2 separate regions of the Homo sapiens genome follow, and region 2 is reported to be linked to region 1. The links are microRNA targets in miRTarBase. Many come from high-throughput screens and were not tested one by one. Region 1 holds a microRNA gene; the other region holds the end of a gene's coding sequence. Distances are between the middles of the regions.
What was found. Region 1 holds the annotated microRNA hsa-miR-6765-5p (GUGAGGCGGGGCCAGGAGGGUGUGU, at 3,576-3,600, shown strand). A microRNA usually pairs through its seed, bases 2 to 8, with sites in the 3' UTR of a target mRNA and lowers its output. Matches are read on the target gene's strand: a 7mer-m8 pairs with bases 2 to 8, a 7mer-A1 pairs with bases 2 to 7 and ends in A, and an 8mer does both.

Region 2: the mRNA of GCH1 is a reported target of hsa-miR-6765-5p. Seed matches in the 3' UTR shown: 7mer-A1 at 1,499-1,505.

The regions. Positions count from the first base shown.
Region 1 is chr14:105,146,662-105,154,439 of GRCh38, reverse strand. MIR6765 (microRNA 6765) reads left to right here and starts at 3,576; the gene lies at 3,576-3,662. JAG2 (jagged canonical Notch ligand 2) reads left to right here. Exons shown (of 26, transcript NM_002226.5): 6 at 2,149-2,279; 7 at 2,383-2,502; 8 at 2,701-2,814; 9 at 3,044-3,157; 10 at 3,336-3,449; 11 at 3,529-3,575; 12 at 3,663-3,836; 13 at 5,120-5,270; 14 at 5,351-5,503; 15 at 5,582-5,695; 16 at 6,001-6,114; 17 at 6,211-6,324; 18 at 6,552-6,668; 19 at 6,913-6,940; 2 more.
Region 2 is chr14:54,837,259-54,844,646 of GRCh38, reverse strand. GCH1 (GTP cyclohydrolase 1) reads left to right here. Exons shown (of 6, transcript NM_000161.3): 6 at 504-2,630. The coding sequence ends at 630. Among named protein-coding and RNA genes, the nearest start is that of MIR4308, 37 kb to the left of the region's middle.

The DNA of each region.
Region 1 (7,778 bases):
GGGCCCAGGGTCTGGGGTGGGCACGGGCTTCGAGCCGTGGCGCTCACTGTGCGTGAGCAAGCTGGGGAGCCCGAGAGAGGGGCGCGAGCGGGTGGAGAGACAGCAGGTGGAGGTGAGCACCGCCCTCCAGCCAGCCTTGGATTGCAGGGGTCCCAGGACCTCCCTCTGTGGAGTGGGTTTGCCTCCATGGGACGAGGACACTGGGGCACAGAGAGCCTACTGATTTCCCCAGGGTCACACAGCGTGGCGTTTTGGAGAGGAGTCGGGGAGTTTGGGAACCAGCTGAGTTGGGAGCCAAGGTGGGGAGGTGGGTGACCCTTCCACAGGCCCCACGGTTGAGTGGCCTGGAGGGTACAGTGAGGAGCTTTCCCGGCCAGTCCCAGAGCGGGGAGGCAAGCAGGGCTGGGGCCGCCCACCCGGTCACTTGCACACACAGGGATTCCCGGCAGGTTGAGCGAGTCCCAAGTCAGCTCAGAAAGTGCAACAAGGTGGACCTGGTCTGGGCAGATGTAGATGTAGATCTACGGGAGTCGGCCCCACTCACCCTCGCCTGGCCCAGTGTGCATCACACAACCTGGATGGCAGTGCCACCCTCCCTGGATGGCTGCTGGCTGGCAGCTTGAATGTCACACCAAGGCTGGAGGAAGGCAGCAGAGAAGTTGGCCATCCCTGCCCTTTACCCGCAGGAAGATGAGCCGGAGTCTGGGGGGCCTGGTGGGTGGGGGCAGTAGGTGAGCTCCGCCTGCCCCTCTTGCTGGCCCTGTCGGGGAGGCCCAGCTGTTGCTGACAGCCTCGGCTCAGGTTCCAGTGCAGGACGCCCCCCCACCGGATGCTGCGGAGATGGCCATGCCTTCCTGCCGCCGCCTCTCCAGGGCCCTGGGGCTGCTGGCTGGGGAAACCAGGAGGTGGGGGCCTGGTGTGGGCTGCCCTGCCCAGGGTCGAGAGCACGCCCTTGGGACCCACGAGGTCTGGGCTCTGAGCCCGGCTGTGGCCGCTCTCTGGCCGATGACCCAAGGTGTGTCACAGCCCCGCCCTGAGCCTGGGTCTCTGTGTCTGTGGAGGAGGGATTCTAGGCGGGATGTGAGGCCACCCACGCGGACCACTGTGCATGCTGGGCTGGATACTGGAGACACGTTCTTCCCGGCCTCAGTTTCCCCATTTGTGGCAGCTGAACTGGGCTGATAGGCCTTCGGTGCTGGCTGTGTGGCTTGAGGGCGGCTCAGGAAGGGCCGTGGTTCTTTCCTTTTACAAAAATAAAGTGTGGCGGGTGCCGGTGTGGAAGTGACGTGGCCTGGATGACATTCCCGTCCTGCAGGACCGGAGAGTTCTAGGAAGGGCCCCCCGGGAGTCCCGGCAGGGCCTGGATGGCAGCCTGCTGAGCCTTGGGGTCGTTGCAGGCTCTCTCCCCTGACGGAGGCACCCTCAAGTCAGGCCATGTTCTACCCTGGCCACCTGCCCTCTCCTGGGGGACTCCCAAGACAGGACGTTGGCCGATAGCCTGGGGCAGGGCGAGTCCTGGTGGTTGTGTCCTGGGGGGTGCAGCTGGGGGTGCAGCTGGAGCTCCTGCAGAATCAGGAACTACCCTGGGCAGGGCTGGCCCAGGCCAGCCTGTGGGCCTCAGTAGCCCCATCTGTGAGATGGGTACCTTGTGGGACTTTACTGGGAGCGAGCGAAATGACTGCCTTTGAGGTGGGGGCGAGGGCACGTGCTGTGCCCAGGGCCACATGGCCGAGGCAGAGCCAGGAGTGCTCCCCTGCTGCCCGCTGGCCTACCCAGCCCCTGGTGCCTCCCGGCCCTGGCAGCACCTTGTGAGTCCGAGCCGGCATTCTCATCCCCGGGGTCCCGGCAGGGCCTTCCTTTCCTGGTGCCTGCTCTCGGGGCCCAGCTCACGGGTGAATCCCAAAATAGCTCAGGGAGGAGTGACGGGACAGCTGGGGCTGACCGTCGGCAGCCAGCGGCCGGGAATGCCCGTGACAGTGGGGCTGGCCGGCAGGGCTGCAACCCCTGCCTGGCTGGGGCTGCTCCAGTTCAAAGGCCTGAGGCCGCCCGCCGGCCCTGGGTGTGGCGTGGGTGACTGTGCCTGGCTCCCCTGCCACCCTTTCAGGCACCACAGCTCACTGGGTCTTGCGCCCCTCCTCCTTCCCCCAGGTGCAGCTACGGCTGGCAAGGGAGGTTCTGCGATGAGTGTGTCCCCTACCCCGGCTGCGTGCATGGCAGTTGTGTGGAGCCCTGGCAGTGCAACTGTGAGACCAACTGGGGCGGCCTGCTCTGTGACAAAGGTAGTGGTAGGGGGCGGCAGGCCTAATGCTCTGCCATCGAAGTGTGGGTTGTGGGGGAGCGGGGGGCCGGCTTTTCCCCTGAGCATCCCACCCCTGCCCCCAGACCTGAACTACTGTGGCAGCCACCACCCCTGCACCAACGGAGGCACGTGCATCAACGCCGAGCCTGACCAGTACCGCTGCACCTGCCCTGACGGCTACTCGGGCAGGAACTGTGAGAAGGGTACGTGGGGGGCTGGCCACCCAAATTCTGGCCAGGCAGGGACTGGTTCCCTGGGGAGCCGGTCAGGCCCCATCCCTCTGGCGTCCTGTGTGGTGGGCCCCTGACCCCCAGCTTGGGAACCTGTGGGCTTGGGGAGGAGTGCTTGTGGAAAGCTGGGGGCCTGGCTGCCAGCTCTGCCCCCTCCCCGCGGTTCTACAGCTGAGCACGCCTGCACCTCCAACCCGTGTGCCAACGGGGGCTCTTGCCATGAGGTGCCGTCCGGCTTCGAATGCCACTGCCCATCGGGCTGGAGCGGGCCCACCTGTGCCCTTGGTGAGTGTCTGCACGTGAGTAGGGGACTCCTGCCTAGTATCAGTGGGGGTCTGGGAGTGGGGCAACTCGCTGGGGATGGGGTGCAGTGGTCAAGTCCACACGTGTGGCTGCGGCTGGCTTGGCGAGGACAAATGGCAGGAAGACCCAGGCTTGCAGCGCCACCTGCCCATGGGGACCTTATTCCCACGGCTCACACTGCCAGGGCCCCACCTTTCTCCACCCTCTGCAGACATCGATGAGTGTGCTTCGAACCCGTGTGCGGCCGGTGGCACCTGTGTGGACCAGGTGGACGGCTTTGAGTGCATCTGCCCCGAGCAGTGGGTGGGGGCCACCTGCCAGCTGGGTAAGGGCTCCGAGCGAGTGCATGGGAACGTGGGCCGCGCATGCGGGCTGCGGGGGCTGCTGGGGCTGCGGGGGCTGCTGGGGCTGCTGGGGCTGCTGGGCTGCGGGTGCCAGGTGCCCGTGCTGCAGGGGGCAGGCAGGGCCCGAGCCCCACGGCTCCCACCTTGTCTCTTTCACAGACGCCAATGAGTGTGAAGGGAAGCCATGCCTTAACGCTTTTTCTTGCAAAAACCTGATTGGCGGCTATTACTGTGATTGCATCCCGGGCTGGAAGGGCATCAACTGCCATATCAGTCAGTATGGGGGGTGGGCGCCGGCGGGTGGGCCGAGGCACATGGGACCCCGCCTCTGACCCTGCTCCTCTGCCCCCAGACGTCAACGACTGTCGCGGGCAGTGTCAGCATGGGGGCACCTGCAAGGTGAGGCGGGGCCAGGAGGGTGTGTGGCGTGGGTGCTGCGGGGCCGTCAGGGTGCCTGCGGGACGCTCACCTGGCTGGCCCGCCCAGGACCTGGTGAACGGGTACCAGTGTGTGTGCCCACGGGGCTTCGGAGGCCGGCATTGCGAGCTGGAACGAGACGAGTGTGCCAGCAGCCCCTGCCACAGCGGCGGCCTCTGCGAGGACCTGGCCGACGGCTTCCACTGCCACTGCCCCCAGGGCTTCTCCGGGCCTCTCTGTGAGGTGAGGTCTGCCTGGTCACCCTGCCCCACCTGCTGCTCTGGGAGCTGTAGGGCAGGCCTCGTCCCCTGACCATGGGGCCTGAGTGACCCAGGGGTGCTGCAGGGGAAGTTGTCCCCAAGGCGTCCCAGGCTCAGCTCTCCACTGGGTGCCAGGTGGGCAGGCGGGGCTGTCACAGGTCACCAGGCTTGGCCCCCTGTGGCCATTGCTTGTTGTGATGGGTTTCCTGGTGGCCTGGGCTAGGAGCCCCCGGGCTGCTGGCTGCCCAGGCCTATCTGTCCATCTGTGCACTCCCTCGGGACTGGAGGGCAGGGGGCTCTGGTGGGCAGAGCACATGGGGTAGGGTGGGTGCCTGATGGTGGAGAGGTATACACCTGTCATAGGTGAGTCCTGGGTCGGAGTGGGCATCTCTCTCAGGGCTGATGCTCTCGCCTCCCTCTGACCATCTGTTGGTACTGGACCCCCTCCCCCAACCTCCCCTTCCCCCCTGCCTCCAAAGTAACCTGCCTTCCCCCTTCCCCACCACCCCTACCACCCCCTTCCCCACCTCCCCCTTCCCCACCTCCCCCAACCCTGCCTCCCCCCACCCACCTCACTATCACCCCTCCCCTACCTCCCCCAACCCTGCCTCCCCCCACCCACCTCCCTACCACCCCCTTCCCCACCTCCCCCAACCCTGCCTCCCCCCACCCACCTCCCTACCACCCCCTTCCCCACCTCCCCCAACCCTGCCTCCCCATTACCTGCCTCCCTACCACCCCCTCCCCTTACTTCCCCTTTTTCCCTGCCTCCCCCCACCCACCTCCCTACCACCCTCGGCCGCCCACGATCCTGCCCTGGCCTTGGTGCAGAGGATGGGCCTCCTGTCCAGAGGGCTTCTTGGGGCCCAGGGCAGGGGTCTGACCTCAGGACCTGCAAGCATGGCAGTGGCTGGCCCTGGAAAAGACCCACAGTCTTGGCTCTGAGGGTGGCCAGGCAGTGTGTGAGGGGCTCAGGAGCTGTCCTTCCTGCCAGCAGCAGGGGCCAAGGCCACACTCCTCCCGAGGGACAGTGAGGAAGCTGGGCTGCAGTGGAGGTGGGGGTGGGGGCCCACAGGTATCTGCGTTCAGCTAAGGCCTGGGCAGTCTCAGGTGGGCAGGGGTCTTGGGCTCTGGCTGGCACTGTTAGGCCCAGGGCGGAGGGGCCTGGGGGTCCCCAGGGATCTACCTTCGTATGGACAGAGGCCTGGCCTGTGTTCCCGGCCTGGGCCTGGGCCTAGGCTCTCACAGGCACCCCCCACCCTGCAGGTGGATGTCGACCTTTGTGAGCCAAGCCCCTGCCGGAACGGCGCTCGCTGCTATAACCTGGAGGGTGACTATTACTGCGCCTGCCCTGATGACTTTGGTGGCAAGAACTGCTCCGTGCCCCGCGAGCCGTGCCCTGGCGGGGCCTGCAGAGGTGCTGGGTGCGGCATGGGGTGGTGGGGGAGGTGGTGGGGCAGGGGCGGGCCTGACTCCTGACTGTACTGCCTGCCATAGTGATCGATGGCTGCGGGTCAGACGCGGGGCCTGGGATGCCTGGCACAGCAGCCTCCGGCGTGTGTGGCCCCCATGGACGCTGCGTCAGCCAGCCAGGGGGCAACTTTTCCTGCATCTGTGACAGTGGCTTTACTGGCACCTACTGCCATGAGAGTGAGTGGCCACGAACGGCGGGCTGGTGGTGGGGCTGGGCTGGCCTGAGGCCCTGGCTCACCCCGCTCGCCTCTGCAGACATTGACGACTGCCTGGGCCAGCCCTGCCGCAATGGGGGCACATGCATCGATGAGGTGGACGCCTTCCGCTGCTTCTGCCCCAGCGGCTGGGAGGGCGAGCTCTGCGACACCAGTGAGTGTTCCAGCACCCGCCCACACGGCCTGTGCCTCCACCCCTGTGGGCCCCTTATCACCCTGAGATGGACCGCTGTCTGGGTGCGGCAGGCCCCGTACCCAGAAAGGCCTGGCCAGGGGGTGCTGCCACCATGGGGTGGAGTCCCAGGCTGCCCCCATGCCCGAGGCCAGCTCCCCCGGCCCGACGCTCCTCCCCCGCCCCTCTCTGTCCTCACCTGGCCCAGCTCCAGTGCTTCCTCCCCCGGGAAGCCCTCCCTGAGCGCCGGTGACCCCCCGCCCGCTGACCGGCGTCCTCGCCCCCAGATCCCAACGACTGCCTTCCCGATCCCTGCCACAGCCGCGGCCGCTGCTACGACCTGGTCAATGACTTCTACTGTGCGTGCGACGACGGCTGGAAGGGCAAGACCTGCCACTCACGTGAGTGTCCGCAGGCCCTGGCCGCCTGGGGCTGCCCCCAGGACCCTGGCCCTGGCGGTCTGGGGCCTGCCTGCTGAGCGGCCCATGTGCCAACAGGCGAGTTCCAGTGCGATGCCTACACCTGCAGCAACGGTGGCACCTGCTACGACAGCGGCGACACCTTCCGCTGCGCCTGCCCCCCCGGCTGGAAGGGCAGCACCTGCGCCGTCGGTGAGGAGCCCCCGCTGCCTCTGCGACCGCCGGGCATATGCCCTCCCAGGCACCGCTCCCTCGGGCGCGATGGGCCGAGGGGTCTTTTTTGAGGGCCACACCTGCCACCTGCCCCCTGCCCCCTGCCCCCGGGTCTGTCTGCCCTGTCTGGGTTGGGGGCGCGGTATGGAGACCCAGGGCCAGCCCAGGGCCAGGTGAGACGCTCCCTCCTCCTCCTCTCCTTACAGCCAAGAACAGCAGCTGCCTGCCCAACCCCTGTGTGAATGGTGGCACCTGCGTGGGCAGCGGGGCCTCCTTCTCCTGCATCTGCCGGGACGGCTGGGAGGGTCGTACTTGCACTCACAGTGAGTGTGGGAGGGGTGTGGGCGGGGGCCGCTTTCCTCCACCCAGATGACATCCCTGCCCCCGACTCGCCCCCCAGTCCCTTCTGCCAGCCCCTCCCCCTGCTGCCCCTGCCCCCAGCAAAAGGCACCCTCCTTGATGACCCTCCCCAGCCCCACAGCCTGATCACGCCAAGCCAGCCTGGACAGTGCCTGGCACGCTTGGGGGGTGGGTACTGATCCCCTGCGTTCTCTTCTCCCAAACCAGATACCAACGACTGCAACCCTCTGCCTTGGTGAGTGGCACCCTGGGGGCCACAGCAGGGGTGGGTGGGACTTGGCATACCACGGGGGGCCACCTGATGCCCACCCTCTGCTCTGCAGCTACAATGGTGGCATCTGTGTTGACGGCGTCAACTGGTTCCGCTGCGAGTGTGCACCTGGCTTCGCGGGGCCTGACTGCCGCATCAGTGAGTGGCCAGACAGCCCCAGCCCTGGGAGCCCCTCAGCCCAGCCGCGGTGTCAGGAGTCTGGGGACATCAACGTCCACGTCCCTTGAAGGGCAGTGTGGCCACAACTACTTCCTGCCTCTCTTCTGAGCCTCAGTTTCCCCACATGTCTGTGCCCTGTGGGGTTCCTGCTGTATACCCTGCCAAGTGATTAAGTGGGGAGCCCCAGCCTGGGGGACCAGTCCGGGGCCCAGGGAGCTGTGGGGGTTGGAGCGTGCAGCCTGACGTGGGCTCCTCTGTGGCCGCAGGGCTGTTGTCCCTGGGTGTTGGCCCAGCTGTCTGTCCAGCACCCCTTGGCTGGTCCGACGCAGCAGCTGGGGCTAATCCAGGATGGGACAGGCCCACTGCAGAAGCAGACGGAGGAGGGTGCTGTTGGGCCAGGGTCAGGCTGGGCTCAGGAAGGCCTCAGGCAGGCAGCAGCTTGGGCTCGGGGGCAGGGGCTGCTCCTCATTGTCCTGGGGCTTGCGCCTGTGTGCCACTGGCTCCCCGCTGCCCTAGGCCATGCCGGTCCTGCGGTGGGCGTTGGCCTCACTGCACTGAGCAGCGGTGGCTCTCCCTGCAGACATCGACGAGTGCCAGTCCTCGCCCTGTGCCTACGGGGCCACGTGTGTGGATGAGATCAACG
Region 2 (7,388 bases), 50 Mb from region 1:
GCTCAGACAGGATCTCTGGTCACCATTATCTGAATTCTGCCTGGTGACATCAGTATACTTGAGCATTTATCTGAACACCTAGGCTAGCATAGTGCTGTCTTGGTCCTGAAGGCAGAGCAAGTGAGAATTCTGACTTTCTTTTGATCTAGAAGTTAAGTAACTCTGTAGACCTTTTATATTACTTTCACCCCAGAAGAAAATTCCATTTTTCCCCTTTTTGGATGCTTTAAGGATCAACTACTGATAAAAATAAAAGTTGCAAGACAACTTCAAGAACAAAAAGTTTAGGTTGCTGCAAAGATAATTGCAGTTTTTGCCATTATGTTCAATAGCAAGAACCGCAGTTACTTTTGCATGAACCTAATAGATAACATTTGTGTAAGAAGGGATATTTCGATATACTTGGTAACTGTGAGCTGAGATTTAATCTTTAGGCCTGCTTTTAAAAACCAAACCAGCAGCTGTCTACTCCTTTAAACAACCTGTGTTGCCTTATTTTGTAGACACATGTGTATGGTAATGCGAGGTGTACAGAAAATGAACAGCAAAACTGTGACCAGCACAATGTTGGGTGTGTTCCGGGAGGATCCAAAGACTCGGGAAGAGTTCCTGACTCTCATTAGGAGCTGAGCTTCATTCAGTGTGTGTGCGTTGGTTGCCGATCGTACTGCCAGTAGCATTGTCTGTCTGTCCGGTCTTGTTTGTACATTCCATTTTCAATTGTTACAGATGTGAACTTTATTCCTTGTCACTAATTATATTTAAAATTATTTCTAGGAAGTCAAATAAATATAATAAAGGGTTGAGCCCTCTACTTTCTTCTTGCCACCTTTTTGTGGCAATATTAAAGTGAACTGCTAATAGTGTAAGTACGTGCACAAAACCACTGCCAGATAACCAGAGGGGCCTGGGAAGGGAGAAGAATTAGTGTATTTTTTTCAAATAGTACAGTAATTTGCCTCATAAGCATAGGAGCATTGGGAATGAGAGGGAACTGTGCCCAGTATACTGTTTTTTTTCTTCCTCCAATAAAAGTGGTGTAGTGCCGAAAGTGCTAAAATATTTAGTGCGGTATTGCTCTGTGAATTCAAGTTCAACAGACTTCACTTTGGTCATGTTTATTAAACCACCAGTGACATTTAAAAATATATTTTTAGCAGTCGTAATGTTAGTCACCAAGGGAAGGTGGTGGAATGTCTATGTTTTTGATTTTACTGTGAGTTAAAAAGGCACATTTCTACCTTCTATTGTTTTTAAATTCAAGAATAGGGAATTAGTTCCTGGTGTTGTTTACGAGTGTATTCTCGTGTCAACATACAGGGATTTAGACATTTAACTCTCTGTGCCTTGATAAGAATATCATTTAGAGTGTAGATACTTTTGCCTTTTTAAAAAAGCCATTATTTTATGAGACTTAGTACTCACACTGCAAATAACTAGTCAGCTCAGTTTTAACTTTATAGGTTTATTGAGTTTCCTTTGTGTGATCCATGTAGATGCCTCAAAATGTTTCTTCTTCTTCTTTTTTTTAATCTTATAAGATATTTTTCTAAGTATTTCCAGAAACATTTGAGAGTGCCCATCATTTTCAGGTCTGCAGAACCATAGCTTCCACGCACCTGAACGAGCACAGAATGAACTGACGGTGGAAGACATTATGAGCTGTGTCCAACGTTTTAACCAAAGCGTATCGTACCAACGATCTGTGAAAATGCACTGGAAGCTTCTGGTCCCGGTTTCCTTTGTGGTCTATGTGGGTCTTGTCCTCATTGTAACTCCGTATAGATGGTATAGGTATTTTAATCCTGGAAGCTGTTGCCTTATTAATGATTATCTTAAAATTTCCTCCATTGGGGCAGCGTGGGCCAAATTAAAACAAACAAAACCGCAACTCCTCCACAGAAACACAAACACAGTTATTCCATGAAGTTTAGTATTTGGTTGACATAGTGCTCTTCAAATTCATCCCATTACCCTAAAAGTAATAACTTTGATGCTTGCTTTAACTTTAGTCCCATCTCTGCCACTTTGATGCTATTTGGGTTATGATGGGGCAAGATGGCAGAGGTATTGGGTTTTTTTGTTTTTTTCCATTCCTCTCTACTTCTGTTTCCTAGCTTTTTCTTTCTGGAGTTTAAGTACAGTGATGGTTGGCTTGAGTACCTTTTTAAATCTAGCCCAGTATAAACATTAGCCTGCTTAATATTTAGACATTTATAGGTAGAATTCTGAGCACTCAACTCATGTTTGGCATTTTAAAGTAAAAACAAGTGTGACTTCGAGGACCAAAGAAATTGTCAGCTATACATTTATCTTTATGAACTCATTTATATTCCTTTTTAATGACTCGTTGTTCTAACATTTCCTAGAAGTGTTCTTATAAAGGTCTAATGTATCCACAGGCTGTTGTCTTATTAGTAAATGCAAAGTAATGACTTTGTCTGTTTTACTCTAGTCTTTAGTACTTCAAAATTACCTTTTCATATCCATGATCTTGAGTCCATTTGGGGGATTTTTAAGAATTTGATGTATTTCAATACACTGTTCAAAATTAAATTGTTTAATTTTATGTATGAGTATGTATGTTCCTGAAGGTGGTCCTATTTAAATTATTAAACTATTGTAACTTTGTTCTTGTGAAAGTTGTTTCTTTTTCAACCACCACTATAAATATTTAAATAACTTGATTATTTTGGCTGTATTCTGTTTCAGCAAAGACATCATAAGGGCTTCTCCCAGCCATCAAAGCTATTTGAATACTAATCTCCATTATAGTACGAAGTAACCCCAGGTTCTGACAGTTTCTCCTTGGTATTTGGTTGGAGTCTTACCGTCCTCACTGTCTTGAGGTAATGGGAGGAGGAGGTCTGGGATAAGAGTCAGGAATCTGAGTGGCCCTCATGTCCCTGTTGTCTTAATGCTTAGTAGGTAACTTCAGCCCCCTGGGAACTGGCACTGTTTCCTACGTGGGAGCTGTTGGGGAAGGAAGAGTAGGCTGGGGCAGGGAGTGGAAAAGGGTTTCCTTCCCTCTTCTAGGAAGAGCCTGCCCAGGGCAAAACTTCCAGTTAGTGCAAGGGGTTTTGTGCTGCTCTTCTGTCCCATGCCCAACAACCTCCTTTCCCTCTTGCTAATGGTCTCCTCCCCATTCCGTGCTGCCCACAGGCAGAGGCCGCCCCTGCCCTCACTGGTGGCCAGCATGTCCAAGTACTGGGGCCTGCTGCTCCTTGTGGGACCCTGTGGACCGTTGGGTAGCAAATCTTATCAAAGTAGGAATGCTTACTGGCATAAAACATTCCTAGAACCACCACTCATAGGTGTCAATAAAACGATGAGCTGCTCAGCTAAGCCCGAGTTGCTGCTTCTGAGTTTTGTCACCGAAGATTGATTGGCCAAGTTCCTTTTCACTTAGTGGAAGAGCAGTTGCAGACATGAAAGGTTTTCAAGAAGCCTTTCTGTCAAAACAGAGCACCTGGATTCATCATCACAGGCATGGGTCCTCCTGCTGATGGAGAGAAGAAGAAGTCTCAAGAGATCAAGGGGAAGTGTGAGTACCTGACTCCTCACCCTCCCAGAGGCCCTTGCCTTCTTTTAATTTTTGTTACAGAAAATGAAACATGCACATCAGTAGAGAGATGAGCACATGAACCCCTGTGTACTAATCACCCAGCTTCAAGAAGTCTCAACTCAATGGCGCCATCTTGTTTTCCTCTATACCCATCTGACCAGATTATTGCAAAGCAAATCCCAGGCATTATTTCATCCATAAATATTTCAGATTATCTAAATAAAGTGGAATCAGGTAAAGAAATATATGATCAAATACATCCATTATCACACTAAAAATTAGTGTCAATTCAAATATCTAGATTTTCCCCTACTGTTGTGTAGTTTTTAGTAGTTTATTTGAATCAAGGTACAAACGAGATCCACACATTGCAACAGGTTGATTTAAGTCTCTTAAGAATCTTATATGTTCTCTTTCCACTCCCTCCTCTGTTTTCCTTAAAATTTATCTGGTCACTTGTTTTGGAGAAGCCCCGTGTTTATTCCAGGAACTGTCTGGTTGCTGGAATGTCTGTGGCTGTCCAAATGAGGTCAAACTCCAGCTAAACAGGGAAAAGAAGGGTTCTTTGCCACAACACTTCTCCACGTCCCTAAACCCCTACTCCTGGGCAGCCTAGCTTGGTCTGGTTCTGTCTGGCTTTTAACTGGAACATAGCTCTCCTTGGCTTTGTAACTTAGAGCCATTCCCCAGGTACAGAATAGAATTCATTGCTTTTTTCTGAGTGTGTCCTTTTTGGGCAAGGCTTCCATTTTAAAACATGCTGCCTTTGGCTTCAGCTTGGTGGATTCCTTGGCTGCCAAGATTTTGGTTAAGGTGGAAAGGTTATTACAGAAGTGAAAACAATGAATCTCACAGTAATTGGCATCACTTTGAGGGCCTACCCATGGGGAATTCCATTGGGTTGGACAGTAGGAGTACTTGGGTTTCTTCCCCCCGGCTCCTCGACCTCATCAATTACATTTTCATGACATCCTGAGTATGAATATCAGGCTCTGGCCGACAAAGGGTGGTGAAGGAAGACACACTGCGTCTTGCATTTAAGCAGCTCCCTTTATTCCCTCCCTAGCAGTGCAGCTATGACTTGCTTGTGGGTCCTGGTAGGATAACTCCTGGCACCTGCATTACACAGCCCTAATGCACCTATCCACTTTTCCTCTTATTTCTACATTCTCCTGTTTGTTTTGAGCAATATGTCCACAACTCTGACCTTTTGAGAAATCCTTTCAATCTGGAACTGACTGTGCTGCCCAGAGAAATGTGGTTTGGCTGCCGGTGAGCATTGGGAAGGTTGTGTGGAGGGAGTCCTGTGATGAAATGCCTGGGTGTGTGTATGTACAACTTCCTCTCAGGCTATTGATTTTCCCTGATTTTAGAATGCATTTTTTATTCTTCCTCCTTTTCCTGGATCCTTTCACATTCAAAAATGTACTGAACAAATAAATGAGATTTCTTTTTTTCTAATTTGTTTTTTTGTGGAGTTTCCCATTATATGTGTAGTGATAATTTTTACAGTCATTCTATCTAGACTGACAAAATTCTTTATGGAAACTTTTCTCTTTGCAAGGACATTTTACTTCTAAAACCAAGGGGGATAAACCGAATTAAAAAAAAAAGCTAGTAAATAAAAATCAGCTTAAAACCATTCTGGTTCTATCAGGGACCTCAGAATTATTGGTCCGTATTGGTCATCTGGTCATTGGTCTCCTAGCAGCTGCTCAACCAGTTTTGGCTGGAGGTGGGTTTTGGTCTCTGTCTCTCTTTGGCTTCACTGCTGCCAGCCTCAACTGCGTTCCTGATTGCTTGGGAAGAACGGCCTTTGACGTCTGTATCTGGACAGATGACAGTCTCTTGTGGGCCCACACAGTGGCTTCCGCTCCTCTCAATTTGGGAAATTTTAAAGGAATTTCCATTTGCAGATTGAACAAGTCTAACCAGAGAGAGGAAGCAACCTGACTGTTTCAGTTTGTACCTTTGAACTTTCAAGTACCTTTAACCAATTAGAGACAACTAATCTTTCTTTTGCTCTCTCTTTTTTTTTTTTTGGAGACAGAGTCTCGCTCTGTCGCCCAGGCTGGAGTACGGTGGCATGATCTTGGCTCACTGCAACCTTCACCTCCTGGTTCAAGCAATTCTCCTGCCTCAGCCTCCCGAGTAGTGGATTAAAGATGCCCTCCACCACGCCCAGCTAATTTTTGTATTTTTAGTAGAGACAGGGTTTCACCCTGTTGGTCAGGCTGGTCTCGAACTCCTGACCTCAAGTGATCCACCCGCCTTGGCCTCCCAAAGTGCTAAGACTACACTCAGCTCAAAGTGCTGAGCCACTGTGCCCGGCCCAAGACAACTAATCTCAGAGCAAAATTTCTTGCCTGAAGTCTCATTTCTGAAAGTTGATTTGCATGTGATCAAGGAGTATTTGAAGTCTTATCCAAATCTTAGCTGACCTTCTCTTGCTTAACAGTTGTCAGAATCACCTCTTAATGAAGGGGTTGGTGGAGTCAGCACTTGACTCTAACAGAATTTCCATATAAATTTAATATATTTAAAAAATAATTATGAATAAAAAGTATCACGTGCACTTGAAGTATAGACAAGCCAACAATGAATTCTCATTGTCTTTTTAACTAGAACACACACAAAACAGGACATTAAAATCAACATGAAACCCTGAGCTCTGAGAACTCATAATTTGTTTCCTGCATTTTAGTGTTTGGGGGATGGAAAACAAATCTTCCAGATTTTCTGTGTGTGTGTGTATGTATGTGTGTGTGTGTACCCAACACCGAATCTGGAAGACTTGTTATAAGGAAGAATATATATTTTTTCTTTCTTTCTTTTTTTTTTTTTTTTTTTTTTTTTTTTTTTGAGGCAGTATCTTGCTCTGTTGTTGCTCAGCCTGGAGTGCAGTGGCATGAACACAGCTCACTGCAACCTCTACCTCCCTGGCTCAAGCGATCCTCCTGCCTCAGCCCCCCAAGTAGCTGGGACTATAGACACATGCTACAGTGCCCAGCTAATTGAGTATTTCCATTTTATAAGTGAGTTGGGTGTCAGGGAGGGTCAAATGATGTGCGTCACCCACACTGGGTTAAAGAGGTGATGTTGCTCCCTGGACTCTGCTTCTGTTGACCTTTCTGTTAACCAGTGGGCCCAGCCCCTTAGGTTACCTCTGGCTCCCATTGTAGCTGGTTAATCTTTTCCAGGTGCCCTCTGTCACTCTGTGCCCCCACATATTTGAAGATGTATACTATCACCTTTGCCCTTTGAACTCAAAGGTGCTGCTGGGAGTGATTATAGGAGTGTGAGATGGTCACCTTGTAGTTCCATGTAATCACACTGTCTTAAATGCTCAAATTAAAAAAAATAAATAAAAACTGGTAATTCTGTGGTTAGCACAAAATTCAAACATCACAAAATAATTAAGGAAACATTTACCTTCACCTCTGCTCCCAAGTAAGCCAGGCAGCTGCTATCATCAGAGATATTTAATGAAATTCTTTACTTTCATGGCAGAATGAAAATCTTTGTCTCCTGCATGTAGGCTGACTTTATGTACTTCCTAATGGTAGAAGGTGTAACTCTAAACTGGTGAGGAGTTTGTGTAACTATCAGAATGTAAAATCCATTATGTTTATTCTGGTGTTCTTTCAAAGTCATTAGATGCTTTCTCTGAATTTTTTTTTTTTTTAGCAAAATCATCTGCAAAAGAAAAATGTGTCCTCCTTACAGAACTTTGACCACCTTAGCAAAAGAAAAGCAGATTCTGGCAAACTGAGTGTTTCAAGCAGGGGCTCTTTTAAAATTTGTTTTTTTCTTTCACTTTTCA